3 separate regions of the Homo sapiens genome follow, and regions 1 and 2 are each linked to region 3. Evidence: fine-mapped expression QTL. A gene starts in region 3. Each other region holds a variant in brackets. All regions are shown on one strand. Distances are between the middles of the regions.

Region 1 (10,458 bases), 52 kb after region 3:
GGTGGCGCGCGCCTGTGGTCCCAGCTACTCAAAAGAATTTAAGCTCTGATAAGTGCTGTAACAGGATGAACCTGAAAATACACTCAGTGAAATTTGACAGAAAAGGACAAATACTGTGATTCTACTTACATGAGGCACTTAAGGATAGGCAAATTTATAGAGACAGACAGTAGAAGTTACCAGGGGCTGGGGAAAACAGGGCATGGGATGTTATTGCTTAATGGTTACAAGTTTCTTTCTGTTTTGGGTGATGAAAAAGTTTTGGAAATGGTAGTGGTTGCACAATATTGTAAATATAATTAATAATGTCACTTAATTGTACATTTATAAATGGTAGATTCTATGTTACATATATTTTACATAAAAAAAGTATTAGATCTAAAACTATTGAATTGTACACTCTAAAAGATGAATTATTTGATATGTGAATTCTGTCTTAATAAAACTATTTAAGAAAACAAAAACAAAACCAGCTATCCGTGTTTGGACAACACTGTCACAAAACAAAGTTGTTGATTTTAGCCAGGAAGCATATAAGGTAGATGTAATCAGTGAGACTAGATTCAGATTAGATTTAGTAATATTAATCCGTATGCAGTCCCTCAAAACTAATGTCTTTCAGGAATATATCAAGTGTTTATGTACTATAATGATTTTGTTAAGTTTTCCCCATTATAGGGAAATTTATTGAGAAACTTATCAAATTAAACTTTTTGGTGGACTTGACATCCTAATTTTTCTTATAACCCCTCCCCCAGTTTACTCATTATTAATATTTTATTTACAAGGTACATAACTTTGTAAGCAGATTTGTTGAATATTTGTTTATCTTTATGGATACTGTGTTACTTTTAATGAGGTAGAATTAATAGTTGTACTCTCATTTGTCCTGTATACAGTATGGTACATTGGGTCCTTACATATCAATATGGGTGGTACTTTTATGCCCATTTTATTGTCATCTTAAAGAGCTACATTGTAATGTTATGCAATGCCTCCTGGATTTTACTTCTGTCTCAATCTCTTTTCTCCTACTAAACTATACTTCTCTCCTGTTTTCTGTTATATCCTCTCTTCAAATACTCTTATGTTATCTTCCAGTTGTTCAGAGCTTCCTGTTACTGCTTCAGTGAGCCTCTTGCAGTCCCTCATAGATTCCTGCAGTCTTCCTGTGTTCTAGCTGGTATGTCTTTGTCTTTGGAAATTCTCTAAAATACAAATCTCATTTCTCTTTAAATTTCTTAGAAAAGAAAGAAAAAAAATGACAACTGCCTTATGTGATAATGACCAGACTCCTTATCAGAGACTTAAAGCCTTAGATTAACTGGTCCCAATTTCTTTTATAACACCTTCACCAATATGTGCACATGTATATGTACATGCACAGAATCTAGTTGATTCACTTTTGTTTCAGTACTTTTTTCCTTTTTATTCCAATTAGTATCATTTTGTTTATCCATTCACCAGTTAATAGACATTTGGATTGTTTGTTGTTTTTGGGCATTATGAATAATACTGCCATGAATATTCTGGTAAAAGTCTTTGTGTGGATATAGGTTTTCTCTTGGATGGACACCTAGAAGGGGAATTGCTAGGTCATATTGTAAGTTTACATTTAACTTTTTTTTTTTTTTTTTGAGAACAGTGTCTTACTCTGTCACCCAGGCTAGAGTGCAGTGGTGCGATCTCAGCTTACTGCAACCTCCACCTCCAGGGTTCAAGCGATTCTCCTGCCTCAGCCTCCCGAGTAGCGGGGATTACAGCGCCTGCCACTGCGCCTGGCTAGTTTTTGTATTTTTAGTAGAGATGGAGTTTCACTATCTTGGTCAGACTGGTCTCTAACTCCTGACCTTGTGATCCACCCGCCTCGGCCTCCCAGAGTGCTGGGATTACAGGCATGAGCCACCGTGCCCAGCCAACATTTAACCTTTTAAGATACTGTGAAACGTTTTTCAAAAATGGCTGCAGCATTTTACATTCCCATAAAATATGAGGGTTCCAGTTTCTTCACAACCTCAGCAATATTTCTTACTGCCTCTTTTTTTTTTTTTTTTTTTTTAAAGAGGCCGGGCCTTACTCTTGTCACCTAGGCTGGAGTGCAGTAACTTGATGATAGCCTTGAACTCCTGGGCTCAAGCCATCCTCCTGCCTCAGCCTCCTGAGAAGCTAGGACTACAGGCATGCACCACCATGTCCAGCCAATTACGTTTTTTTTTTTTTTTTTTTTTTTTTTTTTTTTTTTTTTTTTTTTTGTGGAGATGGGGGGGTCTCACTGTATTGCCCAGGCTGGTCTAGAATTCCTGCCCTCAAGTGACCCTCCTGCCTTGGCCTCCCAAAGTGCTGGGATTACAGGTGTGAGCCACTATGCCTGGCCTGTCTTTTTTTTTTTTTTTTTTTTAAAGACGGAGTCTTGCTCTGGTGCCAGGCTGGAGTGCAGTGGCATGATCTTGGCTCACTACAACCTCCGCCTCCCGGGTTCAAGTGATTCTCCTGCCTCAGCCTCCGAGGTAGCTGGGATTACAGGTGCGTACCACCACGCCCAGCTAATTTTTGTATTTTTAGTAGAGATGGGGTTTCACCATGTTGGCCAGGATGGTCTTGATCTCTTGACCTCATGATCTGGCCGCCTCAACCTCCCAAAGTGCTGGGATTACAGGCGTGAGCCACTGTGCCTGGCCTGGCCTTTTTGATTAGTGCCATTGTAGTCGCCTAATTAAGCTAAAATATCTTTGTGCCTTGAGTTTCTGGTTGGGCTAACGTTTTTGTTTCTGTTCAGTTTGCTCCGATTTTTTAGTATTCTGATTTTTTTTTTTTTTTTTTTTGAGGCAGAGTCTTGCTCTGTCGCCCAGGCTGGAAGTGCAGTGGTGCTATCTCGGCTCACTGCAAGCTCCACCTCCTCGGTTCACGCCATTCTCCTGCCTCAGCCTCCCGAGTAGCTGGGACTACAAGTGCCCGCCACCACGCCTGGCTAATTTTTTTGTATTTTTAGTAGAGACGGGGTTTCACCGTGTTAGCCATGATGGTCTCGATCTCCTGACCTTGTGATCTGCCTCCCTCGGCCTCCCAAAGTGCTGGGATTACAGGCGTGAGCCACCGCTCCCGGCCTAGTATTCTGATTCTTAATTTCCAATTCAGCATTCCCTAAAGAGCCTGAAGTAAAAACGAGAAAACTTGACCTCTTGTCATTGCTCTGCCACTTACTACAGGGTGACTGTATGCGAGTTCGTCAGCTTTCTGAACTTCATTTTCTTCATCTGTAACATAGGGATGATTCCTACTTTTATAGAATTTTGAAGGAAAATGTGTGCATGAAAGAGCTTTGAAAACCATGATCTGTTTTTAAAAAATTAAAGCTGTCATGCTTACGTATATGAAGTATCAGAAATGCTTACAGAGATAGTAGGCAGAATTAGCACTATATTGTAGTGTTAAGGCATTTGTTACTAAACTTGGCATGTAAATTTCCTCATGGAGCTTTTTTCATATGGAAGTGTTTGGGTCTGATTATTAGAGGATTCAGCAGTGCACCAGAGATGGAAAACCATTAGGTTAAGGGCATAGGCTTTGGAATCAGATATGGCTCAATTTAAGTTCAGTTGTTGATAACTTTAGCATAGTTATTTAACCTCTTTGAACCTCAGTTTCCTTGTTTATAAATGGGCATAATTATATAGTTCATCTTAGTAAGAACATTTATTCAGCTTTTGCTTTTTAACCTGCATTGTGTTATGCATTAGGTATGTAGCAGTGAACAAATTAGGATCCCTAAACTTTTCTCATATAGTTTACAGTTCAGAAGGGGAAACACATTAGAGAATTTGTATTTACATTTATGATAAATTCTTTGAAGCAAAAGTGCAGGGGTGGTGTGAGAGCATGCAGTCAAGATTTTATTTAGACTGAGTAGATTTGGGACAGCTTCCCTGATTGACAGGTGAGACTTGAAAGAGCAGTGTTAGCCAGGCATGAGGGCTAGAGAAGAGAAAAAGTTTATTGAAGCAGAAGGAATAGCACACCCTGAGACAGAAGGATCTTGGTTTAGTGTCTTCAAGGAATAGAGATGTGACTGGAGTGTAATGAGCAAATGGTCAGATTAGTATATTTGGAACTTATTCGAAGGGCAGTGAGAACCTATTTAAGAATTCTAAGTAAGGCAGTGATATGAAGAGATTAGCTTATTAAGATCATTCTGGTTGCTCTCTGAAGAATGAGTTGGATGTGGTGTAGATTTATGTTGTGGTGAAGTAATGGCTAATGATTTCATTTACATTTTGAA[GTAA/G]TGTAAATGATTTCATTTACATTTTGCAAGGTAGCATTTATAGGATTTGATTGTTGATTGTAAATATTGAAAGGGAATTGCCAAGCTTCATTCCCAGAAAACTGTGAGGAAGAAATGGGTACATGAAGGCAACACACACTGAAGAGGGAGAGGAATGAAGAATGAGGATTTTTTTGGAGGGAGAAAAAAATTGGGAGACATTTTGTTTAGTTTTGAGTATCTTGAGTTCGCGGTATCTTTGAGAATACCCAAGTGGAAATGTTAAGTAGACAATTGTATGTGCGGACTGGAGTTGAAAAGAGAGATCTTTATGGAGTATGTATTAAAAGAAAGCTTAGGGCAAAAGCCTTGGGAGAAGAACATAAACAGTAAAAAGAGAATTGAACTCTGATGAGTTAACTGATATTTGGAGGTTGAGTAGAAGAGAAATCAAAGGAGACAGGAATGACCAGTAAGGTAGGAAAAAATCAGGAAAAGGCAATGTGTTACTAGAAGAAACAAAAGGAAAATAATGTTTCAAGGAGGAGGCTGCGGTCAACTGTGTATCATACTGCTGAGATGAATAAAATAAGGATTAGAAAAGTGTTCACTTGATTTGGCAACATAGAGGTCAACTGATGACTTTTAGTTAGCTTTTACTGCATAACAAATCACCCGAAGACTGACTTACTGAAAACAACTGTTCCCAATTGTGTATATTGGCAATTTGGGTTTGGCTTATCTGGGTGGTTCTACTGATCTGGACCAGGCTTAGCTGATTTTAGCTGGGGTTGCTTATGCATCTACAGATATGCCTCTGTGGTCACCTGGTGATTTGGTTAGGGCTGGCTTGTTCATGATGACCATGGCTGGGACAATGTGCCTCTGTGCATATACATTCTAATTTTCCACTGGGATAGCTTGGACTTGCCGACATCTCCATAGCAGAATTCCAAGAGCAGTAGGTAAGCTAACCCAGAGCACAAACACTTACTAAACTTCTCAATGTCCCATTGCCTAAAAGAGTCATAACGCCATCTCAGATTCTAGGTCTGAAAAAACACTTTTATTTCTTGATGGGAGGAGCAGCAAAGTCACATTGTAAGGGTGTAGATACAAGGAATGGAAAAATTTGTTGTCATTTTTTGCAATCTGCTAGTGACTGTGGCAAAAGCATTTTGCTGATGAGGTGGAGTGTGCGGGTGGGGAACTCTTTGGAAGCCAGGTTGGATTAATATGAATAGTGAATGGGAATTGAAAGTAGATAGTATAGATTACTCTTTGAGAAGCTTGTCTGTGAAGGTAATTTGGGAGAGAGGACAATACCTGAGGCAGGGGAGGTATTTGTAGTCTAAACAGGTATGTTGTATTTTCTTTCCCTTCCTGCCTGAATGCCTTCCATCCATCCAATAACAGAATATATTTGAATGCTGAGAGAGTATCTAGTAGACACAGAGGATGCTGATACGGGGGAAAGAGGAGATAACTAATCAAGTAAAAGTCTTTGAGTAGAGGATGGGATTTTGTGTGCTTATGAAGGGGTTAGTGTTTTGATGTGAGGAGGGCTATTTCCTTTCTGGTATTAGGGAAGAGGGAGGGAAGGAAGGAATGGGGAAGGAGGGAAGGGAGGGAATGGGTGCAAATGTACATAGGCATGTAAATTGGGTAATAAGAGGCTGAGGGTTTCCGTTTGATGGCGCTTCTGTTTTCTCAATGAAGCAACAGCAGTCTACATGGGGGCGTGGGGCGGGGGCGGCGTTGTACAAGAATGTGTGTTGGAGATTTGACGTGAATAGAAAAATTCGTAATTTTATCCACCCCCCCACCCCCCACAATGGGATATCGAGTTGACTACTGAGCAGAGAAATACTAATCACTCAATAAATGAGAGATATTATCACTATTAATATACAAGAATTACTTTAAAGAGATTTAACAGAACACTTTCTGTGCGGTTAGAAACTGATGCAGGTCGAGATATTCCAGGGCCTGGGGCTCCTTTTCTGTTTGAGCCAGTTAAACTTTAGTATCTTCCATAACATTGATGGTCCTTAAAAAATGATGTAGGCAAGTGACCATGTTTGCCCTTTTACAAATAAACATTAACAAAAATATGTATTCAAAGAAAGGGTCCAGTTTCTAAAAGAACTTCCTAAAGTATTCACCGTCACTGTTTTACCAGAACAAATAAGGAATAACATAAATACACTGATTTTGAATTAATAAAGATTAATTCAAACTGCATGGTAGATTAGTCAAAAAATTGTATGTTGAAAAAGGCAGATTTTTGTTTAAACAGTTGGAAAATATGTAAACAGGGCTTTCAAGTTGTATGCTTAGGGGAGAATAGCATAATTTACTTAGCGTTTTTTCTCGTAGGAAAAACTCCCATTAGATTTTTGGTTGTCCCTCAACAAGAATAAGCTAAACTTCTTACACTGTTTAATTATTGTGTACTGAAGAGTTGTCTTTATGGAGGGCACCATCTGCTGGTTGCAAGAGGTAGCAGTTGTGGCGAAGACTGCCTTCTGTAGTTATATCAGACTCTTTACAAAATCTTATGTTTTCCTTTGAATTCCACCTCAAACCTGGAGTGAAATCCCAGAAGGAAAAACAGCTTTAAATTAACATGGCCCAGTATGGATTCTAGTAGTGGTTTGATTTGATTTCTGTGACTGTGAATTTTTAAGAAAAATCAACATGAAACTGGCAGATGCCGGTCTTTATTTGTTGATTTGGATGCCTAAATCAACTAAAAAATAGGATTGCTTATTGTTATGATTGCTCTTGCTCTTTAGTCAGTACTTTGTTTTCCTTTTCTATTCAGTGAAAATATCTTACATATTTTTTACTACAGTCTCTTGTTTAGTTACATCTATGAACATTTATTTATGTCTGATAATATTAAAGAATGACCATTTCATTGATTTTTCTTGTACTCAGTGTGATTAAAAGATTCTCATATATTTAATTAATGATCATTTTATTTGAACTTTAAAAAAAAACTTTAGTATTAGAATATTTTCTTTTCTTTTTTCTTTTTGAGATGAAATCTCGCTGTCTCACCCATGCTGGAGTGCAACGGCACGATCTCAGCTCACTGCAACCTCCACCTCCCAGGTTCAAGTGATTCTCTGGCCTCAGCCTCCTGAGTAGTTGAGACTACAGGCATGCGCCACCATGCCCAGCTAATATTTGTATATTTAGTAGAGACGGGGTTTCGCCATGTTGTCCTGGCTGGTCTCAAACTCCTGACCTCAGGTGATCTGCCCACTTTGGGCTCCCAAAGTGCTGAGATTACAGGCGTGAGCCACTGTGCATGGCCTAGTATTAGAATATTTTCTTATGCTTACTGTTCATGCTGAACATAAAAATGTAAATATAATAATATGCATATGATAATTTTTGAACTGAATTGTTTTCTGAAAATGCTTGTTTCAAATAACCCTTTGAAAGAAGGGAAATTCTAGGTTATAGTTTTACTATTAATTGGTGGTAAATTTAAAGTTTATATTTTTTAAATGGAGAAACTCATAAATCAGCACATTGTTGGCCAGGTGTGGTGGCTCACGCCTGTAATCCCAGCACTTTGGGAGGCCGAGGCAGGCAGATCATGAGGTCAGGAGATCGAGACCATCCTGGGTAACACAGTGAAACCCCATCTCTACTAAAAAAAATACAAAAAATTAGCCAGGCGTGGTGGCGAGCTCCTGTAGTCCCAGCTACTCGGGAGGCTGAGGCAGGAGAATGGCGTGAACCCGGGAGGCGGAGCTTGCAGTGAGCCGAGATCACGCCACTGTACTCCAGCCTGGGTGACAGAGTGAGACTCCGTCTCAAAAAAAAAAAAAAAAAAATCACATTTTTCTGTAATATACTATAGTTTATAAAATAGAGTCTGATATAGGCCAGTTTTATATGACTATTTTCTAAGTGCAGTTATTTTTCATTTTTTGTTTGCTCTACCTTAATAGTGAATGGTTGAGATTCCCCAAAGATGAAAGGAACTATTATATGTCAAATCATTTATTTGACATTCTGTTTAAGGAGCAGCTCTGTATCAATACCTGTTTTTCATTGACTTAATGATACCCTCTTCTTCTGTGTTGCTCCTTTTCTGCTTCCTCTTTTTTCTTTTCACCTTTTTCTTATCTCGTAATTTGGTATTCATTCCCATCATTTTCTGGACACTTTTTTCTCAAATATCCTGTCAAGTTCAAGGGAGTATTTGCTGAAGTCATTTTGTATGTTTTCACTGAGGGTGATCATCACTATATGTCACCCCTCCATTTTCAAACATTTTTGCCTAGGTTTTTGTAATATCACTATATATCGTCCCTTCATCTTCAAACATTTTTTCCGTAGATTTTTGTAACAATTACTCTCATTTTTCTAAAGCCATTTTCTTGACTTTCTTCTGTTTTCCTTCTTTATCTCCCCTGTGGGCTCCCACCACCCCAATCACTATAGGTATTTCATTAAGGTTTAGTGTTGGTATCTCAGCTCACCCTACTCATTTTCTTTACTCATCTTGTAAACCCATAAAGCATGAACAATAAATTGTTCTAAAAATATTTTCTCATTTTACACTTTTTTTCTAGAACTTTAGATGTATAATCTACAGTTGCCTTCTAGAGCAAACTTTATTTTTCCCAAGACTTAATCTCTCTCTCTGGGTTTTCCCCCATCTCCATTACAACGAGGGCAGAGCTCTTTCTTGTACATTTGCTCATCATTGTATTCCTAGTACTTAGTGTATTGCACCAAGCAAATTCTCAATAAATATTTAAATAAATGGCCTTCTAGGAACAAAGGTTTCGAATCTTATAATCATGTTCTGCTTCTCTGGTATAATCATTCGTAAGTCGTTGAATCAGTTTTCTTGTTTTGTAGTCATTGCCTACAGTCAGTTCCTCATTACTTCTTTCTTGGAATTTTGCAGTAGTTTTCTAACTTGTTTTAATTTCTCCTGTGTCTAGCTCTACTTTTTGCTGTAACCATAATTTCTTCGAATAGTTCTGGTCGTTCATTCATTCATTATTTCCTGAGTGCCTACTACTGATAGTAGCTATTTGCGATAGATGCTAGCAGATAGATGCTAGCATAAATGTTATATGCTACTTTTCTTAAGGAGCTTACAGTCTAGTGGGAGAGACAAAGATAGAAATAAGTACAATAGATACAATGTGATAATTGCTAATTGTAGTAGGTTCAAAGTGTGACTAGCTGTAGGGGAGGAGCCTAGCTCTGCCTGGTTGAGGTCAGAAAAAGTTAAAATGAGACTTTAAGGTCTATAGAGTTTGCTTAGTAGACAAGGGCCAGTATGTTTTACTCATAGGAAAAACAACCTGTGTATATTCACAGAGGTGTTTCAAACCTCTCCTTACAATGCTGTTCATAAGACTGAAGTGCAAATTGAGTAACCTCCCTCTTTGTTGTCTCTTTATTTTTTCCGTCTTAGCTCCCTTTACTTCCTTCCACCTTTTCCTTCAGTCATACTTCTGGTCCAGTAACTGAAATTTGCTCTCTGAGATTTATTCAGAATGTTTTTTTCTGTCTTTTTATTCTGTGTATTATTACCACTTTACCCCTGTCCACTTACAAAAGTGGTTTTTCTTTCAGTCTTATTTTTTCCAAGCTTGTTGTTTATTTCTGTTAGGATAATTTCAGAATCAACTGTGATTCACTTATTTAGGGGAATGTCTGTTTCTCTTCATGGATTTTGAGACCCATTTTACGTGTTTTGCTCTGTAGTTTCTGCTGTTGTGTTCTGCATATGAGGTGCTTGATAAATTTTTGGTTACATGGATGAGTATATTTTACAAGGTCACTCTGTCTACATTGTATAGCTGTGGTCTGTGGCCATATTCATGTATTTGTTTTTATGAATCATGAACAGCTTTTGTCTCTGAAATAAGGCAGAGAGACTTTCTTCCACTCCAGACTCAGTGGAAGAGAAGCTTATCACATTTATCAATCCATTTATCAATCTTTCCCTGGAGTGCTTTGTCCTAGGCATTGGCTGAGTATCTTCTTTGGTTGAAGGAATGTAACTATGAACTTGGTTCTTGCTAGTGTTTTTCCTAACCTGAAGTCATGCAGCTATTCTCTTTTATCATATTCTAAAAGCTTTTAACACTTTGCCTTTATATTTAAGTTGTTACTGTACCTCGAATTCATTTTGTATATGGTGTGAAATATAG
Region 2 (10,458 bases), 130 kb after region 3:
TAATTTAGAGGGAGGATATTGCTATATGGACACACTTTAAGAGAAAGAAAGAAAACCTGATTTTAGCTGTACTAGGACTAAAGGAGAGGCTTTGTGGTCATAGTATTTTTCTTTAGGTCAACCTGTTTACCAGGAAGAGCAAAGTTTAGTGATGAGGTAAGACTAAGGAAAATCATGAAGGAAATATCTTTTTACCAACTTTACGGGAACAGAAGAAAATTATACGCTTAACCCATTAAACAAAAAATGAAGATGAGTTATGGGGTTCCATAACGATGAGTTATATGAGTTCCATTGTGTCTCAGCTTGTCTCTCAGGAGTCTGACTCCCCTAAAAGTAGTTAGATGTGCCAAAACTGAGGATCCTGTCATAACATGTGATGTACCCATAGCTCAAGTGACTGGTTCTTATCCTTGTAAGAGTTTTAACAAATTTGGAGATAAATTACACAGAGAAAAAGGACTTACTACCTTTAGTCCTAACTCTCATTCCTATGCTACTTAGCCAGGTGATGAAGCAACTGTAGCCTGAGTTGGGAGCTTTGATGTTAATTTTTTAAAGAAGTGTTCAGTCATCCGGGAGATGCTAACTATACTTTTGTTTAAATAGCAAAGCCAGAGAGAATTTTTCTTATTCAAAGATGAATTAACAGAATACAGATAAGCAAGTTAACAAACACAAAACCTATGTAAATATCTTAGCATTCCAAAGTAACTGATAAGCAATACTTAAATAACTGTCTTAGTTATTTAAGCTGCCAAGGAAGGTAAACAGCAAATGACATGAGAGAAAAAAGATAACAAAAATGAAGTAATACATGAAAAAGAGCTAAGGATATTGACTATAGAATATAATTTAATATAAGTAGCAAGGAGCAGAATAAACAATGTGGAAGATGGAATCAGTAAGCTAGAGATTTGGCTTGAGGAAATCTGCATAGAATATAGAGAAATTGGAGAGAAAAAATGGAGTTAAAGGGAATGAATTGCAGATAGTGAAAAACCATAATTGACATCTTTGGAGAAGACAGTAGAATAATGGGAAATGGAAAATATTCAAGAAAATAATAATAAATTTGTTCTGAATGATTTAAAATATGAATCTGGAGGTGAAGACTCATTTTTGGAAAATATACTGGTGCAGTTTGCTAAATTTTCAGGGATTGCAAAAGTGATTTCACAAATATCAAGAAAAACTAGTTATATCGGGGAACCTGCCCCGATAATCATGTAGGTTCTTTTCTATTTTTCCTAAGCGGCGGCCGGCTTGAGAAATAAAGGGACAGAGTACAAAAGAGAGAAATTTTAAAGCTGGGCATCCAGGGGAGACATCACAAATTGGTAGGATCCGTGATGCCCCACAAGCCACAAAAACCAGCAAGTTTTTATTAGAGATTTTCAAAAGGGGAGGGAGTGTGTGAATAGGTGTGGGTGACAGACATCAAGTACTTAACAGGGTAATAGAATATCACAAGGCAAGTGGAGGCAGGATGAGATCACAGGACCACAGGACAGAGGCAAAATTAAAATTGCTAATGAAGTTTCGGGCACCATTGTCACTGATAACATCTAATCAGGAGACAGCGTTTTGAGATCAACCGGTCTGACCAAAATTTATTAGGCGGGAATTTCCTCTTCCTAATAAGCCTCACAGGACCACAGGACTGAGGCGAAATTAAAATTGCTAATGAAGTTTTGGGCACCATTGTCATTGATAACATCTTATCAGGAGACAGGGTTTTGAGATCAACCGGTCTGACCAAAATTTATTAGGCAGGAATTTCCTCTTCCTAATAAGCCTAGGAGCGCTATGGGAGACTGGAGTCTGTTTTAGCTCTGCAGCCTCAACCATAAGAGACAGGCGCACCTGGGGGGGCTGTTTATAAGCCTATACCTCCAGGTGCGTATTCTCTTTCTCAGGGATGTTCCATGCTGAGAAAAAGAATTCAGCGATATTTCTCCCATTTGCTTTTGAAAGAAGAGAAATACGGCTCTGTTATGCCTGGCTCACCGGCGGTCAGAGTTTAAGGTTATCTCTCTTATTCCCTGAACGATTGTTGTTATCCTGCTCTTTTTTCAAGGTGCCCACATTTCATATTGCTCAAACACACATGCTATATAATTTGTGTAGTTAACACAATTATCACATGGTCCTGAGGCGATATACATCCTCCTCAGCTGACAGGATTAAGAGATTAAAGTAAAGACAGGCATAGGAAATCACAAGAGTATTGATTGGGGAAGTGATAAGTGTCCATGAAATCTTTACAAATTTTATGTTTAGAGATTGCAGTAAAGACAGGCATAAGAAATTACAAGAGTATTAATTTGGGGAACTAATAAATGTCCATGAAACCTTTACAATCCATGTTCTTCTGCCATGGCTTCAGCTGGTCCCTCTGTTTGGGGTCCCTGACTTCCTGCAACATAGTTAGGTCAGCGCAGTGGAAAATAATGAAGCTGGCTGACTTCTTTTCAAACCACACACAATTTCTGAAGTTAATGATTCAACAGCTGGAGAGTTCTGATGGAAAAAACAGTATAACTAAAGAATTTCCTAGGCAGCCCTAGCTACTTTTAAGTAGGGGCAAATGAAGGATATTCTTAAGTATACAGGACTCAGTAAATGTACCACCCCTTTTTTATCATGAGGTTACCCTGTCTACATAGTTTTATGCTTTTCCGTCTGGAACTCAGTTTTGCTTATGCCCTCTAAATCTAGATTTTGTTTCCTTTTTGTTTGTATATCTCTGATTTGTCTTTGCCTATCATTTTAGTTTAATTATTTAACTTTTAGATATGGCTATGTAAATGTATTTGAAAACCTGGATTTTTAAGAATGATGTAAATAAGTTCAAGATGAGGAAAGACAAAAACCTAACAGACTCTAGTTATAAAAAAATTGAAACATTATTCGCTAATAAAACCACCAGTGTAGCTCTCCCTCTCCCTCTCCCTATCCCTCTCCCTCTCCCCACGGTCTCCCTCTCCCTCTCTTTCCACGGTCTCCCTCTGATGCTGAGCCAAAGCTGGACTGTACTGCTGCCATCTCGGCTCACTGCAACCTCCCTGCCTGATTCTCCTGCCTCAGCCTGCCGAGTGCCTGCGATTGCAGGTGCGCGCCGCCACGCCTGACTGGTTTTCGTATTTTTTTGGTGGAGACGGGGTTTTGCTGTGTTGGCCGGGCTGGTCTCCAGCTCCTAACCGCGAGTGATCCGCCAGCCTCGGCCTCCCGAGGTGCCGGGATTGCAGACAGAGTCTGGTTCACTCAGTGCTCAATGGTGCCCAGGCTGGAATGCAGTGGCGTGATCTTGGCTCGCTACAACCTCCACCTCCCAGCCGCCTGCCTTGGCCTCCCAAAGTGCCGAGAGTTGCAGCCTCTGCCCGGCCACCACCCCGTCTGGGAAGTGAGGAGCGTCTCTGCCTGGCCGCCCATCGTCTGGGACGTGAGGAGCCCCTCTGCCTGGCTGCCCAGTCTGGATAGTGAGGAGCGTCTCTGCCCGGCGTGCCATCCCATCTAGGAAGTGAGGAGCGCCTCTTCCCGGCCGCCATCCCATCTAGGAAGTGAGGAGTGTCTCTGCCTGGCCTCCCATCCTCTGAGATGTGGGGAGCGCCTCTGCCCTGCCGCCCCATCTGGGATGTGAGGAGCGCCCCTGCCCGGCTGCGACCCCGTCTGGGAGGTGAGGAGTGTCTCTGCCCAGCCACCCCGTTTGAGAAGTGAGGAGACCCTCTGCCTGGCAACCGCCCCATCTGAGAAGTGAGGAGCCCCTCCGCCCGGCAGCCGCCCCGTCTGAGAAGTGAGGAGCGCCTCCGCCCAGCAGCCACCCCGTCTGGGAAGTGAGGAGTGTCTCCACCCGGCAGCCACCCCATCTGGGAGGGAGGTGGGGGTCAGCCCCCGCCAGGCCAGCCGCCCCATCCGGGAGGGAGGTGGGGGGGTCAGCCCCCCGCCCGGCCAGCCGCCCCGTTTGGGAGGGAGGTGGGGGGGGTCAGCCCCCCGCCCGGCCAGCTGCCCCGTTTGGGAGGTGAGGGGCGCTTTTGCCCAGCCGCCCCTACTGGGAAGTGAGGGGCCCCTCTGCCCGGCCAGCCGCCCCGTCCGGGAGGGAGGTGGGGGGGTCAGCCCCCTGCCCGGCCAGCCGCCCTGTCTGGGAGGGAGGTTGGGGGGTCAGCCCCCCGCCCGGCCAGCCGCCCCGTCCGGGAGGTGAGGGGTGCCTTTGCCTGGCCGCCCCTACTGGGAAGTGAGGAGCCCTTTTGCCCGGCCAGCCACCCCGTCCGGGAGGGAGGTGGGGGGGTCAGTCCCCCGCCCGGCCAGCTGCCCCGTCCGGGAGGGAGGTGGGGGGGTCAGCCCCCCGCCCGGCCAGCCGCCTCGTCCGGGAGGGAGGTGGGGGGGTCAGCCCCCCGCCCGGCCAGCCGCCCCGTCCGGGAGGTGAGGGGCGCCTCTGCCCGGCCGCCCCTACTGGGAAGTGAGGAGCCCCTCTGCCAGGCCACCACCCCATCTGGGAGGTGTACCCAACAGCTCATTGAGAACGGGCCATGATGACAATGGCGGTTTTGTGGAATAGAAAGGGGGGAAAGGTGGGGAAAAGATTGAGAAATCGGATGGTTGCCGTGTCTGTGTAGAAAGAAGTAGACATGGGAGACTTTTCATTTTGTTCTGTACTAAGAAAAATTCTTCTGCCTTGGGATCCTGTTGATCTGTGACCTTACCCCCAACCCTGTGCTCTCTGAAACATGTGCTGTGTCCACTCAGGGTTACATGGATTAAGGGCGGTGCAAGATGTGCTTTGTTAAACAGATGCTTGAAGGCAGCATGCTCGTTAAGAGTCATCACCACTCCCTAATCTCAAGTACCCAGGGACACAAACACTGCGGAAGGCCGCAGGGTCCTCTGCCTAGGAAAACCAGAGACCTTTGTTCACTTGTTTATCTGCTGACCTTCCCTCCACTATTGTCCTATGACCCTGCCAAATCCCCCTCTGCGAGAAACACCCAAGAATGATCAATAAAAAAAAAAA[A/T]AAATAAATAAATCAATAAATTAAAAAAAAAAAAAAAGCACCAATGTAAGTTGTGTCTTGAGGGAGATATTTCAAATCTATAAGAAACCAGGAATTCTAATTCTTTTAATTGTTCAGAGTATAGAAAAGAAAGCACTCATTTTCTTTACAGCCAGGATAACTAACATGAATACTAAAACCTAGTAAAAGATATCCTCCCCACCCACCCCCCCAAAAAAAAACGCTAAGACAAATCTTACTAATATGTGATTTTTGTATAAGCAAGATAGTAGCAAAAAGAGAATTTAAATAATAAAGCGAGAATATATTATGGCCAAACATGGTTAATTTTAGGAGTATACAGAGAGCGTTGGTACAATATTAGTAAGCCTACTATTTATGTTTACAATTTATTATATAAGTAGGGAAAAGGGTATACAATAGATCATTTTTGATAGATGCTGAAAGGGCTTCTGAATTTTTTTTTTTTTGAGACGGAGTCTCGCTCTGTCGCCCAGGCTGGAGGGCAGTGGCATGATCTCGGCTCACTGCAAGCTCCGCCTCCCGGGTTCACACCATTCTCCTGCCTCAGCCTCCCGAGTAGCTGGGACTACAGGCGCCCGCCACCATGCCCGGCTAATTTTTTGTATTTTTAATAGAGACGGGGTTTCGCTGTGTTAGCCAGGATGCTCTCGATCTCCTGACCTTGTGATCCGCCTGCCTCGGCCTCCCAAGGTACTGGGATTAGAGGTGTGAGCCACCACGCCTGGCCAAAAAAATCAGTCTGTTTCTAATTAAATCTAATAAGATAGGAATCCGTACCTTCATAACATAATTAATATCTCTCAAACCAATAGGCAGCATCATGTAAAACACCAGTAGCATTCCCAATAAAAGCAGGAACAAGGTGAGATACCACACTATCTCTGCTATTGTTTAACATTGTTTTGGAAGCATTAGCTAGTGTAATTATGTAAGAATATAAAATAAGAAATACAAGTGTGGGAAAGGAAGAAGCTTTCATTTTTCTTGGAAAATCCAGGAGAATCAACCGAAAAACTACTCAAAATGGGGTAGCCAAAATGAGTATGTAAAAATCCAAAGTTTTCTGTATATAACCAACAATCATTTACATTATTATGGGAGTAAACATCAGAAGACCTAGAAGTAAAGTATACAAGAAATTTGCAATGCTGTAATAATGGTGGATGGGGGGATATAATACTTAACAAATACATTGGTCAGGAAAAGGTACGTTACCTAGTAAATAATTAGCAAGCAGTTTTGAAAGGAAAATAGACTGCTTACTTTGATTTTACATATATTCCAGAAGAATCAAAGACAAATTATTGCATTAAGTGTATAACATGGATTTGGTTTAAGTATATAACATGAATTAAAATACTAGTAACCAGTATATTTTTATAACTTCCTTGTTTGTAGAGGAAGGGACACTTATACCAAGTCATGAATGAAATATTGATGGGTTGGATTATTGTTATTATTACTATTATTATTTTGTTGAGATAGGGTCTTGCTCTGTTACCTAGACTGGAGTGCAGTGGCTCAATCATGGCCCACTGCAGCCTCAACTTCCTGGGCTCAATCAGTCCCCCCACCTCAGCCTCCCAAGTTGTTGTGTCTACAGGCATATGCCACCATGCTTGTCTAAATTTTGTATTTTTTGTAGAGACAGGGTTTTGCCATGTTGCCCACGCTGGTCTTGATCTCCTGGGCTCAGGTGATCTGCCTAGCTTGGCCTCCCAAAGTGTTGGGATTACAGGCATGAGCCACCATGCCTGGCCTGGATTGTATTATTTTTAAAAAATTCATTTGTTGCAAAAAAATCTATGTGTTACCCCCCACTCCCTGCCCCACCATGTATGGTATGGTTCTAGGTGTACAGTACAGTTCTAGGTGTCGAGGACATTGTAATAAAGAGGACAGGCTAAGTCTCTCTGCCCTTTTATTTTAGTGGGGGTGAGGAACCACTATTTAGATAAAAGCCAAAATCATGAAATAAGTTGGAAACACAAATGATATGCTGGAAAACTATTTTCAGTATATATTAGTTAGAAAAGGTTAATACCTGCAATGTATAAAGACCCCCCCCCCTTTTTTTTTTGTTTGAGACAGGGTTTCACTCTGTCTCCCAGGCTGTAGTGTAGTGGCTTGATCTCTTGGCTCACTGCAACCTCTGCCTCCCAGGTTCTAGCAGTTTTTGTGTCTCAGCCACCCAAATAGCTGGGATTACAGGCGTGTGCCACCACCCCTGGCAATTTTTTTTTGTTTGTGTTTTTAGTAGAGACTGGATTTTGCCATGTGGGCGGGGCTGGTCTCTGTCTCCTGGCCTTAAGTAATCTGTCCGCCTTGGCCTCCCAAAGTGTTGGAATTACAGGTGTGAGCCACTGTGCCTGGCTGCAATGTATTAAAGATTCTTAATGAAGGAATAACAAATATAAATCTCATAGTAGAATACTAGCAAAGAGAATGAACAGGAAATTTATAAGCAGGAAGTCCTGTCAGCCTTCCAAATCATGAAAAGATGCTTATGTAATCAAGGAAATACAAATATAAGCAATTATGTGATGCAACCAGTATTAGTTAGCATTCCAACAATGCTGTCTTGGTGGGAGTATAAAATGATGCTATGCTTCTAGGTTGGTAACGTGGTAATATATGCAAACTTAAAATGTGTATAGTTTTTGGCTCTGCACTTTCAGGAACTTATCCCAGAGATAATTAGAAAAGATGTGCACATAATCTGTCATATAGTTCAGGGTTCAGTCAGAGAAACAAACTATACTAGGTATAAAGTCATGTACTGCATAATGGTGCGTTGGTTAACGATAGACCAGATGTATATGGTAGTCTCTTAAGATTATGATGGAGCTGCACTGCACAGGGGTACAACTTTTATCTTTATTTTTTATTTTTATTTATTTATTTATTTTATTATTTTTTTTTAAAATTTTTTTAGTATTTATTGATCATTCTTGGGTGTTTCTTGGAGAGGGGGATTTGGCAGGGTCATAGGACAATAGTGGAGAGAAGGTCAGCAGATAAACATGTGAACAAAGGTCTCTGGTTTTCCTAGGCAGAGGACCCTGCGGCCTTCCGCAGTGTTTGTGTCCCTGGGTACTTGAGATTAGGGAGTGGTGATGACTCTTAATGAGCATGCTGCCTTCAAGCATCTGTTTAACAAAGCACATCTTGCACCGCCCTTAATCCATTTAACCCTGAGTTGACACAGCACATGTTTCAGAGAGCACGGGGTTGGGGGTAAGGTTATAGATTAACAGCATCCCAAGGCAGAAGAATTTTTCTTAGTACAGAACAAAATGGAGTCTCCTATGTCTACTTCTTTCTACACAGACACAGTAACAATCTGATCTCTCTTTCTTTTCCCCACATTTCCCTCTTTTCTATTCGACAAAACCACCATTGTCATCATGGCCCGTTCTCAATGAGCTGTTGGGTACACCTCCCAGACGGCGTGGTGGCTGGGCAGAGGGGCTCCTCACTTCCCAGACGTGGCAGCCGGGCAGAGGCGACCCCCACCTCCCAGACGGGGTGGCTGCCGGGCGGGGGCGCCCCCCACCTCCCAGACGGGGTGGCTGCCGGGCGGGGGAACCCCCCACCTCCCAGACGGGGCGGCTGCCGGGCGAGGGCTCCCCCCACCTCCCAGACGGGGTGGCTGCCGGGCGGGGGTGCCCCTCACTTCCCAGACGGAGCGGCTGCCGGGCGGAGGGGCTCCTCACTTCTCAGATGGGGCGGCCGGGCAGAGGTGCTCCTCAGTTTCCAGACGGGGTCGTGGCCGGGCAGAGGCGCTCCTCACTTCCCAGACGGGGTGGCGGCCGGGCAGAGGTGCTCCTCACCTCCCAGATGGGGTGGCGGCCGGGTAGAGACGCTCCTCACCTCCCAGACGGGGCAGCCGGGCAGAGGTGCTCCTCACATCCCAGACGGGGCGGCCGGGCAGAGGCGCTCCCCACGTCCCAGATAGTGGGCGGCCAGGCAGAGACGCTCCTCAATTCTTAGACAGGATGACGGCCGGGAAGAGGCGCTCCTCACTTCCCAGACTGGGTGGCCTGGCAGAGGGGCTCCTCACATCCCAGACAATGGGCAGCCAGGCAGAGACACTCCTCACTTCCTAGACGGGATGACGGCTGGGAAGAGGCGCTCCTCACTTCCCAGACTGGGTGGCCGGGCAGAGGGGCTCCTCACATCCCAGACAATGGGCAGCCAGGCAGAGATGCTCCTCACCTCCCAGACGGGGTGGCGGCCGGGCAGAGGCTGCAATCTCAGCACTTTGGGAGGCCAAGGCAGGCGGCTGGGAGGTGGAGGTTGTAGCGAGCCGAGATCACGCCACTGCACTCCAGCCTGGGCAACATTGAGCACTGAGTGAGCAAGACTCCGTCTGCAATCCCGGCACCTTGGGAGGCCGAGGCGGGCAGATCACTTGAGGTCAGGAGCTGGAGACCAGCCCAGCCAACACGGCGAAACCCCGTCTCCACCAAAAAATACAAAAACCAGTCAGGCGTGGCGGCGCACGCCTGCAATCCCAGGCACTGGGCAGGCTGAGGCAGGAGAATCAGGCAGGGAGGTTGCAGTGAGCCGAGATCGCGGCAGTACAGTCCAGCCTCGGCAACAGAGGGAGACCGTGGAAAGCGGGAGATGGAGACGATGGAGAGGGAGAGAGAGCAACTTTTATCTTTTACACCATATTTTTTCAGTACCTTTTCTATGTTTAGATATACAGATATTTACCACTGTGTTATAATTGCATATAGCATTCAGTACAGTAACATGTAGTACAAGTTTGTAGTCTAGGAGCAATAGGTCATACCATATAGGTATGAGTAGGCTATACCATCTAGGTTTATGTAAGTTTACTCTATGATGTTCTCACAACAATGAAATCATCCAGTGATGCATTTCTCAGAATGTATCCCTATTGTTAAGTGATGTATGACTGTATTTTAAACAAATTAATACAGATGTTTAAAGGACAAAAGAGAAAAATGTTGCATTGGTAATTCAGGGATACAAATTGGTGGAAGCAGCTACTACCTCTAGAGCTGGTGGGATAATTGGGAAGAAGTAATGTTAAGAGGTGGAGGAGCCCTGTCAGTATCACCCAACAGACTGCCAAAGTATGGCATGGCCTGGCTGTTGCTGGGGAGCAGTGAAACTACTGCTCAGAACGCCTTAAGAAGCTCTAGTGTCTTGCAGTGGAAGAAATTAATAGGAAACCAGCTCTTTGCAGATTTACAGCTTCAGGATCTCTGAGCAGATTATGAAAGGATAGGTTTAAAGCTCAGAGAGAGTATGTAAACAGCCAGCACAGGGATATTCATGGTATTGTTGTTAAGGTGTTTTTAAAAATTTTTAAATCTAAAATGCTTATCAGTATGAGATTAGTTTTGGTATAGCCATACACTATACATACACTGAGAGCTATGTGACTG
Region 3 (10,458 bases):
CCCTGAACCTACCCCTTCCTCCTTGGGCACCCAAACCCTTCCCTGCTGCCCCCAAGACCTTGCCCATCATCCATTAATTGAAGAGTTAATGCTTCACACAGCAGGCAGCATATGTGGTCCTATTCAAGCTACAGCCAGTATCTGTTGTCATTGGTCCTTGCCTGTCCTGTACAGTTGCAAGTATTTTAATATTATCCTTGGAGATTTCTATGCCTTTAGGAGCAAATTTTATATTATAAAACATTATGTTTTGTAAAACAAATCTAAATCTAAATATATGAATATAATATGTTCTGGACTGATACATATCAAAGCATTATAAGTAAATTTTTCTGGTGGCATAATTATGAGTGATCTTTTTTTCTTTTTAATCTTAACTGCAGTTCCAGATTTCTCTATAATGGGCAGATTATTTACACAGCAAAAAATTAAAGTGTATCTCTAAACCAGTTTTATTTCATAAAAAAGAATGGAGATGTCAACATTTTTCAATAGCTCCATCTGCTGGCTGCTGAATAAAGCTAATTTTAAATATCAAGTTTTAACTAAATGAGACAGCCAGAAGAAATAGAATTCCTGTGTTAGAGCAAAGTATGCTTCCTACGTATCCATGAAGAGTAAGTATTAGGAGTCAATTTACTTGGAATAAGAGGTGATACAAACTTGGTTCCATATAGAGTGAGCTACTACCCTATGCTCAAAAACAGGCTGCTTGCCTAGAACAGAAACGTGAAACTGAAAAATTGTTTTGGAGTTTTTGGCCATCTTACACTGGAATGCTGATTTTTAAATTAAAAAAAAATTTTTTTTGAGACAGAATCTTGTTCTGTTGCCCAGGCTGGAGTGCCATGGTACGATCACTGCTTACTGGAACCTCTCCTCATCTCAAGTGATCCTCTCTCCTCAGCCTCCCGAGTAGCTGGAACTACAGGTGCATGCCACCATGCCCAGCTAACTATTTATTTTTTATAGAGGGAGGTCTTGCTATGTTGCCCAGGCTTGTCTCAAACTCCTGGGCTCAAGCTATCTGTCCACCTCAGCCTCCCAAAGTGCTGGGATTGCAGGAATGAGTCACCATGCCCGGCCTGTAGATTTTTCAAATAGCGCAAAAGTAAATAACATTGATTAGTGATTGCATGTGAATATATGTGAAACATATTATATTGAAGGAATTTATACGCCTTTGCACAAATATTCAAAGCAGCAGTCTAAATTCTCCTTTGTCATTCTCCTTACTTTTCAAGTGAAATTGCTCTTGGTTCTATATCTCTTTATTATTTCCAGAAGTTGAACTGATGATAAATGCTTTCTTAAACCCAAATCTCTCTTTGGATGATAATGCAAGCTACGATATTTTGTGTAAAAATTTCTGACATCTATCTTTGGAACTCTTTAAAAAAGTTAGATGTATCAAACATATTCCAATATAGTTTCTGAAGATCTAGTTTACAGAAATTTCCCAGATGATTTTGGTATTCTTCCACTCCACTCGAGTTAAGAACAGCTGCCCTGGGACTGTAGATGAATGTGGCATCCTTTCAGGAATATTTGCATTGTAAAGAGGATCACAGGATGGGCACAGTGCCTCATGCAGGGGATTAATTGTGGAGGGAGAAATTTGAGGCACCAGGGGCTGAGTCTTGGATGAGGGTGAAGGAAAAGAGCCCGTATACCATCTTTCAGCAGTAGTGATGTCATGAATGAAGGATCAACTTCAGGGGCTTGGAGTTTATCAAAATGCCTCACCAGTTTGCCTAATGCCTAAAATATCACAAAGCTAATTTCTGTTGGGCTTAGTTTCTCCTAATGGATATGAATGGGTTAGTGTTTTTTTTTTTTTTTTTTTTGAGATGGAGTCTCGCTCGGTTGTCTAGGCTGGAGTGCAGTGGTGCGATCTCCGCTCACTGCAACCTCCCCCTACCGGGTTCAAGCAATTCTCTGCCTCAGGCTCCCAAGTAGCTGGGATTACAGGCACCTGCCACCACACCTGGCTAATTTTTGTATTTTTAGTAGAGACGGGGTTTCGCCATCTTGGCCAGGCTGGTCCTGAACTCCTGACCTCGTGATCCACCTGCCTTGGCCTCCCAAAGTGCTGGATTACAGGCGTGAGCCACCGAGCCCTGCCTAACTTTTTCAAGTAACACAACCACATTCCAACATGTTTTCTGAGAATCCAATGCCTTAACCCAATAAATTAGTCTAGTGGGAATTTCAGCACTGTTGCAGGCTAACAGGGATCATATTTTTGTCTTGACTAGCCTTTGGGACATACCTTGAATTATGCTGAACCGGTAATGTTTGTCTAGGTAGGGCCCAGTCTTATCATTTACTAATTAGCTGCCCAGTGTGCTCTACTATGTATAATATGATAAACATTTCACCATATTTTGGAAACCATGCTGTAGTGCAGCAAGGCTGTACTCAAAATGCAGTAGGGGCCATAGGGGTATATTTAGGACTGTCCAGGTTAATTGTGTGCATTCCTGATGTCTTTCAACTTGCTAACCTCTTTAACCTCAAATTTGGACTCTATTAAAAAAAGCCCAGGTAACTCAAATATGAGTGATGTGGCAGACTGAATAATGGTCCCCTTACAATATCCATGTCGTAATCCCCAAACCTTTGAATATGTTATGTTACATGGCAAAGGGGAATAAAGGTCACTAATCAATGGACCTTAAATTAGAGATTATCCAAGTGGGCCCAATATAATCACAAGAGTATTAAAAGTGGATGAGGGAGTCAGAGGAAGAGCTGCGGTGACAAAAGCAGGTCAGAGAGACGCCATGGAGCTGGCTTTGCGGATGGAGGAAGGAGGATATGAACCAAGGGATCTGGGCAGCCTCTGGAAGAAGGAAATAGTAAGAAAAGGGATTCTCCTTTGGAGCCTCCAGAAAGACACACAGCCCTGACAACACCTTGATTTTAGCCCAGCGAGATACCTGTCAAACTTCTGCACTCCAGTAAGACAATAAGTTTGTGCTCTTTTAAGCCACCAACTTTGTGATGATTTGTTATAGTGACAAAGTAAAATTAGTAGAGGTGGGAACTACATTTGTGGTTATTCATAATCAAAGACAATTCTCCTAACCATTTCTGTATAAAACCAGCATTTGGACATAATTCCCACATAATTTCTCTTTCTTGGTGTAGAAAGCATTCACAACTGAGTTTTGAATGGTTCACACTCTTAAACTGTCTTAAACAATGTTGTGTTATGTTGCTCCTAATGAATTGCAACTTGGCTATTTTTAAAAATCCCAAACACAGAAGATTATTTTTGTTCAAATATCAACTTTAGATTTTAGTTTTCCCAAACAATATTGTTTTAAATGAAGGTTTATATTACTGATTTCTGTAAAGCCACTTGCAGTCATATAAAAGTATGCCCTTTTGTTAGAAACTATGCCTCATTAAAGCTTTAGGGTTTTTCCTCTGTCTGTCCTAATGGTAATTGCCCCATTGACCCTTACAATGTAGCTATTTTGAAGGCTATCTCCTTTCTGCCCACTCTTTTCTTGGGCTTAATCCTGTGGTGTTAGCAGCCTAACGTGGGCAATATGTATTCCGGGCCTCATTGAAATTCAAGGCATCATTTTATAAGAGAGAGGGTTAATGGTGAAACTGGCAAAACTGCTCACAAAGTTGACGTGACACCTTCAGCCCTTTCAGGACTCACTGCCATATACAAGATGTAGAGTGACATTCTTAAACAATTCATACATCCAACAAAATATTTACTGAGGCTTCCAGGTGTCAAATAATGGGGATAAGAGCACTGAATAATTTATACAAAAACTCTTAGCCGGGCATGGTGGCTCACGCCTGTAATCCTAGCACTTTGGGAGGCTGAGGCAGGCAGATCACGAGGTCAGGAGATCGAGACCATCCTGGCCAACATGGTGAAACTCTGTCTCTACTAAGAATTACAAAAAATTAGCTGAGAGTGGTGGTGTGTGCCTGTAGTCCCAGCTGCTTGGGAGGCTGAGGCAGGGGAATTGCGTGAACTCAAGAGGGAGGTTGCAGCGAGCCAAGATCGCGCCACTGCACTCCAGCTTGGCGACAGATCAAGACTCCATCTCAAAAAAAAAAAAAAAAAAAAGAAAGAAAAAAGAAAAAAAAATTCTTGCTTTCATCCTGGCTTTCTTCTGAAACTTTCTGGCTTCCTGGCTTTGGAGGTTTGGGAATTGAAGAAAATAAAGTAAAAAACATAATAAAAACAACCAAAGAGGAAAGGTTTTTCTAGATCTAGACATCCTACTCTCCCATACAAGATTTATGTTGATGGAACAACGATGTAAAATAAGAAAATTCCTGAGATAATTTTAAAAAGAGGGCAGAAAAAACTCATAGTAGACTTCATCGAGGAATGTATAAAATGGGTAGAACCTGGAGTATTCAGTGGCAAAATCTTGGACACAGGAATACAGTAACACAACATATTGGTCTAGCAAGCACTGGAGGAGACTGAGGCGGAATTGTCCAGCGAATCCCACAAAAATGGAAATGAAGAGGTCTCAGTATCTCTAGGTGCCCGGGTCCGATGGAATACCGATGTACATACCTTTTCTAACACAGTAGCATTAGTTTATATATCAGCATTACCTCTCTTTTGTTTCAGTTGATAAGTATCCTACTGTAATCCATTCATTCACACTTTGCTTGTTCATTGTTGAAACAAATTCTCCCTGGAACAAAATTCTAGTAACCAAATACATCATATCAGGGGAAACTTCCTTACAGCAGGGATGGTATTAAAGTAAAAAGAGGAGGAAGTCCCTTCTTCAGCTCTGGCAGGGACCCGGCTGGGGAGGAAACCTTCCCGCAAGGTAGGTGATCTGCTGTGGTGACCAGGCTAAACCCACTCTACAGCTGCAGGAGGGACTGGCATCCCTTAGAGGTGAAGAGGGGAGGAGACCCACCTCCTGGAATGTGTCCCTGTGGTCTCCAGATGATTTCTTCCTCTAATAAGGACAATTCTGCCAAAGGAATGGAATGCTTCGTCACAGGCTCAATTACTCTGTCTCCGCCAGCCTACCACCTATAAACAATTCCTCAAATTAGGAAAGCGGGGAGATTTAATAAAGACATAACACGTAAAGTGTAGGAAAACTATTTGTATGGCATTCCGAGACGACTAGGTCAGAGTTAACAAGTAAGGAGCAAAGTAGTTAATAATACCAATTCTGTTTACCCATCACAACACCTGTGCTGAATGTCAGGGTTTAAAAAAATCTCCCAACCTTTATCTAAAAAGATAGGGCTACGTAACAATCGGTGTGGTTTTTGTCGGTAGAGGTCTAGGAAGCCGCAAGAGTAGTGGACGCCTTGACAGCTGCCCTTCTCGCGGGCCCCGCGGCGGCGTGCCCGTGTGGTTGCGTGCGCGCGGACGGGGCGGGGCTGAGGAGGGACGTGCGCGCGCGCGGACGGGGCGGGGTGGAGCTCGGAGGGCGGACGCGCTCGGGGCCGTCTGGTCGGCAGGGGGCGCTGCGCACCCATGCCGCGCTCTGCCTGCCCCCGGGTGCTGTCCGCGGCGGTTCGATTGGAGCAGCCGCCGAAGAGCGCTTGGCGCCATTTTGAAGCGGAGAGGAGGAGGAACGGCAGGGCTGGCTGCGGAAGGGGAGGGGGGGGGAGAAGGCGATTGGATGCGGCGGCGGCGGCGGATCCCGGAGAGCCCCGGAGTGAGCGGAGTAGCGAGTCGGCAACCCGGAGGTAGGAAACAATTCAGTTAACGGAAAGAAAATGTCTCTCTTCTCTGGCTGCGGCGCTCCATTTTTCAGCGGCCGCCACTGCCGCTGTGTGCGTGTGTGTGGCAGGGCTGAAGCGCCGCCCGCCTGGGTGCCAGGCGCGACTCGCCTCCCGGCATCGGGGGCTGCAGCGGGTGGCTGCCTGGCGGTGGCCCGGGGCGGGGGTCGCGGGGCGCGGGCCGGCTGCGCGGTGGGGGTGGGGAGGGCCCCGCGGCCGGCGCGCGCCTCCACGCCGCGGGTTCTGCCGCAGCCTCTGGAAAATTAAACTTGCCGCTCTGATCCCGGCCGGGGCGGCGGCGGCGGCGGGCGGTGACCTTGCGCGCGGGCGGGGGTCTCGGGGCCGCCCGGCCGCCCGCGCCCTCCCGCCGCCGCCGTCGCCGCCGCCGCGCCCCTCCCCCCGCGCCCCGGCCGGCCGGCGGCTGTTTCCCGGGCGGCAGGCGGGCGGCGCGGTGCTCCTGTTGAATCCTCCCGCGGGCGGGCTTCTCCCCCTTCCGGGCGAGGGGCGGGCGGGGACCGCGGGTCGGGGCCGCGGGCGCTCTCGCCCCCGCCGCCGGGTCCCCGCGCGCCGCCTGGCCTCCGCTTCGGGCCAGGGGACGGGCTGAGCGTGACATTTTTGCACTGTCCCTCGCCGCTCGCCGGAGGGAAATCGCGCTCACCGCGCCACCCCGAGTGGTCCCCGAGCAGCCAGTTGAGGAAGAGCCCAGCACTGGCGTGGAGGGACTCCTCCCAGGCCACAACTGGGTTCTAGCTTTCCTTTCAGAAGGAACGGCGGGGAAAATGGTGTGCAATTGTGACTCGTTATTGTTTTTACACTGTTATTTTAATGTTACTTTAAAAGTTTTCGGTCCGGAGAAAAACCTTGTTTGTTGTTGTTGCTGCTACTGCTGTTGGTTTTTGGTAGAGACGTGAAAGCTAACTCTTAAGTAGCTCGACAGTTATTTTGGACGAATGACTGAAACCAGAAACGCCGCCCCTCGCCTTCGGAGCTGCAGGCTGCTGCGTTCCTTGCCGCGGACGGGGCGAGCTCCGGGAAGGGTTGGTAGAGCAGCTACCCACCCACTCCACGCGCGTCTTCAACAGCCTCTCTCCCCCAGCGAGGGTTAACCCTTTTTTATGTCGAAGAAAGTGCTTCTCGTACTTTTAATAAGAGGTGATGGATGGGCAGTGGTGCCCAGACTGATCCTACCCTGTTGATGAAATAGTTTCGAAAACTTTGGGTATAGCCTTAATTTAGAGGGTTGGTCTGCGGTGTGGAGAGAGTTGGGTAATCCTATACTATCTTCCTAATGAACTTCAAAAACTCAAGTTGTGTTTACATACAGGAGGCGAGCTGTAAATAAATCGTAATTACCCAATGCTTGAACGGCAGTATAGTCATTGTTCTCAGTTAACACATCCCGAGTTCCCAGACAGAACGTTTTTTATATTAACTCATGTAGTGGTCAGGTAAAGTAATTAAAAGCCACAAATATGGACTTGAAAGACAGCTCTTCATGCAGTACACATGTCTGAGATGTTCGCATCTTTAGGGACAATAAAATGAGTATTCAATGGTGTATGCAGGTCAGTTCGTGCAACAATTAATCTTGTATCTCATGGTGATAGCAGAAAACCTAATTAAAATTTGTAGTGCTGAATATGTAGGTGAAAATTACATGGGAACTTTTATGTGAAGATAGATTTAGTCTCAGAAACTTAACTGTAAAAACACATCTTAAGAACATTATTCCTTATAAATAAAATTTGTACTTAATATACATTTACAAATATGTCTAACAAGATGCACTTTAGACTTTATAAAAATTACCAAAATAGTGACTTTTTCCTCCTTTTTCTGATGGTTTTAAAAATTGTTCTCTTCTCAGCTGGCGTTTACTTAAAGGTATATTTTAAATGGGAAGGTAGTGTTTGTCTTGGCCTTTTTTCTTTTTTTCTTTTCTCCTTGTTTCGGTTAAGGCTGATTTTCCCTATATTAACTTTTCTTTTACAGCAGCTTTTGTTACTCTTGTAGGCTTTGTTCTCTCGTGTTATGTCTCTCCCCTCTCCCCATATTAGAGAGAGATGTGGTGATGATAGTGATTGTTGTTAGGAGATGTTTGTATTAAGCTTATTTGTAATAAGATTCTACCGAGTTGGCTGTTGGATGAAAGTTGTTTAAATTGTTCTGCAGCTTTGTTTAACGAAGTAACATTTTGAGCAGTAGGCTTTATCAATAATTTGTTAGGCCTAAGATAAAGTGATACTCTGTATTAGGCAGGGCTTGCCCTGGAGAGGGGTGCAATGGTAGAAAATACCCAAAACTTTGTGGGGAAGGAATATTTCGGGAAGCTGTATTCTTTCTGCTTTACCTCTTGGGAAATTTAGAGACTGCCTTAGAACTAACAGGAGTGCTCAGTATGATTTGGCATACGGACTCTTGAATGACATGGACTGTATATAACGTATATTGGAAAAGAATACATTTGTGTTTCCTCTGTTAGTGTTAAAGAGCAACAAGAAAACTTAAGGATGATCTCCAACTCACTTATACATGAGAAATTAGGTTCAGATTTTAATTTCATTGATTTATCTGAGGTCACAGTCATATTCATGTGGTGGAACTGGGGCAGCCCTTAAGATATCCTGGAAGCTTAGAAGTTTCCCCATTGTCTTTTTTTGTTCTATTCAGGATTTAGCAATATTTATTAATAAAAATTCAGGGTAGTACATTACCCTCCATCCCCTTCTCACCTTTTTATTCATTTAACCAAGAATAAAGTTTTGTGGTTAGCCGTCTGTTTCAGCGTCTGGTTTTTAATAATTTCTGTTTAGGATTCAGTCCATTTAGGTTGTCTCAGAAGATAGCCTCTTGTAGGTCTCTGTCTCCGGGAGCCGTCTTTCTTTATGTAACATTACTTGACATGGCATTTATTTATTCTTTGTGAAACTTCTAAGAGTAATTTGGGAAAGTTAGTATTGACCTTTGTTTTGTTACAAGATATAGTGCGTGCATGAGTATGCGTGTATTTTTTCATTTTTAAACTCAGTTTGCTACACAAGTCATCTGTCACTTCTAGTTACAATAGGCGTTTTACTTGGTTTTCGTATTCCTGTTCGGGAATGTTAAAGATTCCAAAAATACTTAGTTTAAAAACAAGCCCAGTAGTTTCTCTGAGAGTGTATTTACTTTTTAAGAAGCTGCCAAATGGTTCGCAATTCTGACTCCTTGGAGAGTAGAGGTAAGAAGCCCTTTCCTCACACTGTTCTGTTACAACCACTTGATTCTAACCATTTCCCCCATTACTTGAAAAAGGTTTTAGAATCCTTTCTCATTAATTAGTTCAGAATTAAGAATAAATTTGCTGTGTTGAGACTGTAATTGTTTTAGCTGGCATGAGTGATCGTGCACAGTGAAAAAATCATGATAATAAAACTTAGATGAATAAAATTTATTTGTTCAAATCTTAAAGCCTTTGAGGTTTAAAAAGTATAATCATTGTGTTCTAATAATTAGACATTAATAATAAGTAGTAATTAAAAATACTTGGTTTAGCTATGTAAAACATAAAAGCTAACAGGCTTGGGGGAAAGACTGATTAAAGTAAGAAACTATTTTGAGGCATCTTTTTAAGGACTAAAAGTATTCCACTAGCCTGCCATTCTCTTTTTTGACGGATAATTACCTGATTCAATTAAAATGAACAGGTACAAAACTTCCATATACATACAGTACCAGGGATGATGCACTAAACAGGACTGAAGACACCCTGTCCTATAGAAGTGCAGAGTAGTGGTTGGCCATCCACAGCAAGGTGATGAGAGCTGAGACAGACCAGAGAGTAGGATCTCTGCTGTTACTTAGTTCCGAAGGAGCAGGCCCTCCTTCCTTTTCAGTGGCAGTTGAGGTTGCTCTTTTTATGTGGGAGAGTGAAATTAGCCAAGATTAGATCCCATAAGGAGAAGGAGGGGCTCTTATAACCAAGACCATTGTCTTTCTCTAGAAGAGGATGGTTAGGGACCTGAAAAGAAATGAGATTTTGTGTTTCCTTAGGTAAGATAGGATTCTTTCTCCTCAGAGGTGATTTTAGGGAAGTAATTGAAGATATTTTAAAGGAAAGCTCCATATCTCCAAAATATTATTTAGTAGCTGAAGTTCTACCAGGTAGTTTCAGTTAGCTTTCAGATATGGGATGCTTTGGGTTGGGTGTGGGGGTGAGAGTTGCAGGGGCAAGTTGCAGGGGCAAGATGCTGGGCAAATTGCAGGGGTGAGAGTTGCAGGCCTTAAGTACTCTATTAGGGGAATAGAGTACCTAAAGAATTGTGTATTTTAAGTTAAAAGTTATACAGGTATATGGTAAAAAAAAAAAAAATTTAATGATAGAGTAAAAAATGTTACTTTTTTCCTCCCCCCACAGGTAATCCACTGTTAACAGTTTCTTAAAAGTTTACTTTAAAAAAAATTGTACAAAGAGTATTGTTATACTGTTGTACTGTAATTTACTATTTTATTTATTTATTTTATTATTATTATTATTTTTTGAGATGGAGTCTCGCTCCGTTGCCCAGACTGGAGTGCAGTGGGGCAATCTTGGCTCACCACAACCTCCACCTCCTGGGTTCAAGTGATTCTCCTTCCTCAGCCTCCTGAGTAACTGGGACTACAGGCGTGTGCCACCATGCCCAGATAATTTTTGTATTTTTAGTAGAGACTGTGTTGGCCAGGCTGGTCTCA

Alleles and levels. Positions count from the first base shown, and alleles are read on the strand shown. Sizes are in standard deviations (SD) of each study's normalised expression. Not every link is listed here.
As copies of A replace T in region 2, the expression in skeletal muscle of the gene that starts at base 5,571 in region 3 goes down (large effect, 0.93 SD a copy in FUSION).

Evidence for each region. PIP is the estimated chance that this variant, and not a neighbour inherited with it, causes the effect.
Region 1: its variant is the best candidate, but not a certain one, in a credible set for the expression of PDS5B in whole blood (INTERVAL, PIP 0.53).
Region 2: its variant is the best candidate, but not a certain one, in a credible set for the expression of PDS5B in skeletal muscle (FUSION, PIP 0.77).

What each region holds. Positions count from the first base shown.
Region 1 is chr13:32,632,964-32,643,421 of GRCh38, forward strand. The region is part of intron 1 of PDS5B (PDS5 cohesin associated factor B); the gene reads left to right. Among named protein-coding and RNA genes, the nearest start is that of PDS5B, 52 kb to the left of the region's middle. The variant GTAA/G (reference allele first, on the strand shown) is at 4,277.
Region 2 is chr13:32,712,688-32,723,145 of GRCh38, forward strand. The region is part of intron 19 of PDS5B (PDS5 cohesin associated factor B); the gene reads left to right. Among named protein-coding and RNA genes, the nearest start is that of PDS5B, 130 kb to the left of the region's middle. RefSeq lists enhancers at 1,228-2,212, 7,905-8,498. The variant A/T (reference allele first, on the strand shown) is at 5,012.
Region 3 is chr13:32,580,882-32,591,339 of GRCh38, forward strand. PDS5B (PDS5 cohesin associated factor B) reads left to right here and starts at 5,571. Exons shown (of 35, transcript NM_015032.4): 1 at 5,571-5,712. PDS5B-DT (PDS5B divergent transcript) reads right to left here and starts at 5,564. Exons shown (of 3, transcript XR_001749808.1): 1 at 5,496-5,564; 2 at 4,923-5,041; 3 at 4,137-4,688. RefSeq lists silencers at 5,256-5,625, 5,636-5,715, 6,136-6,385 and an enhancer at 6,616-6,675.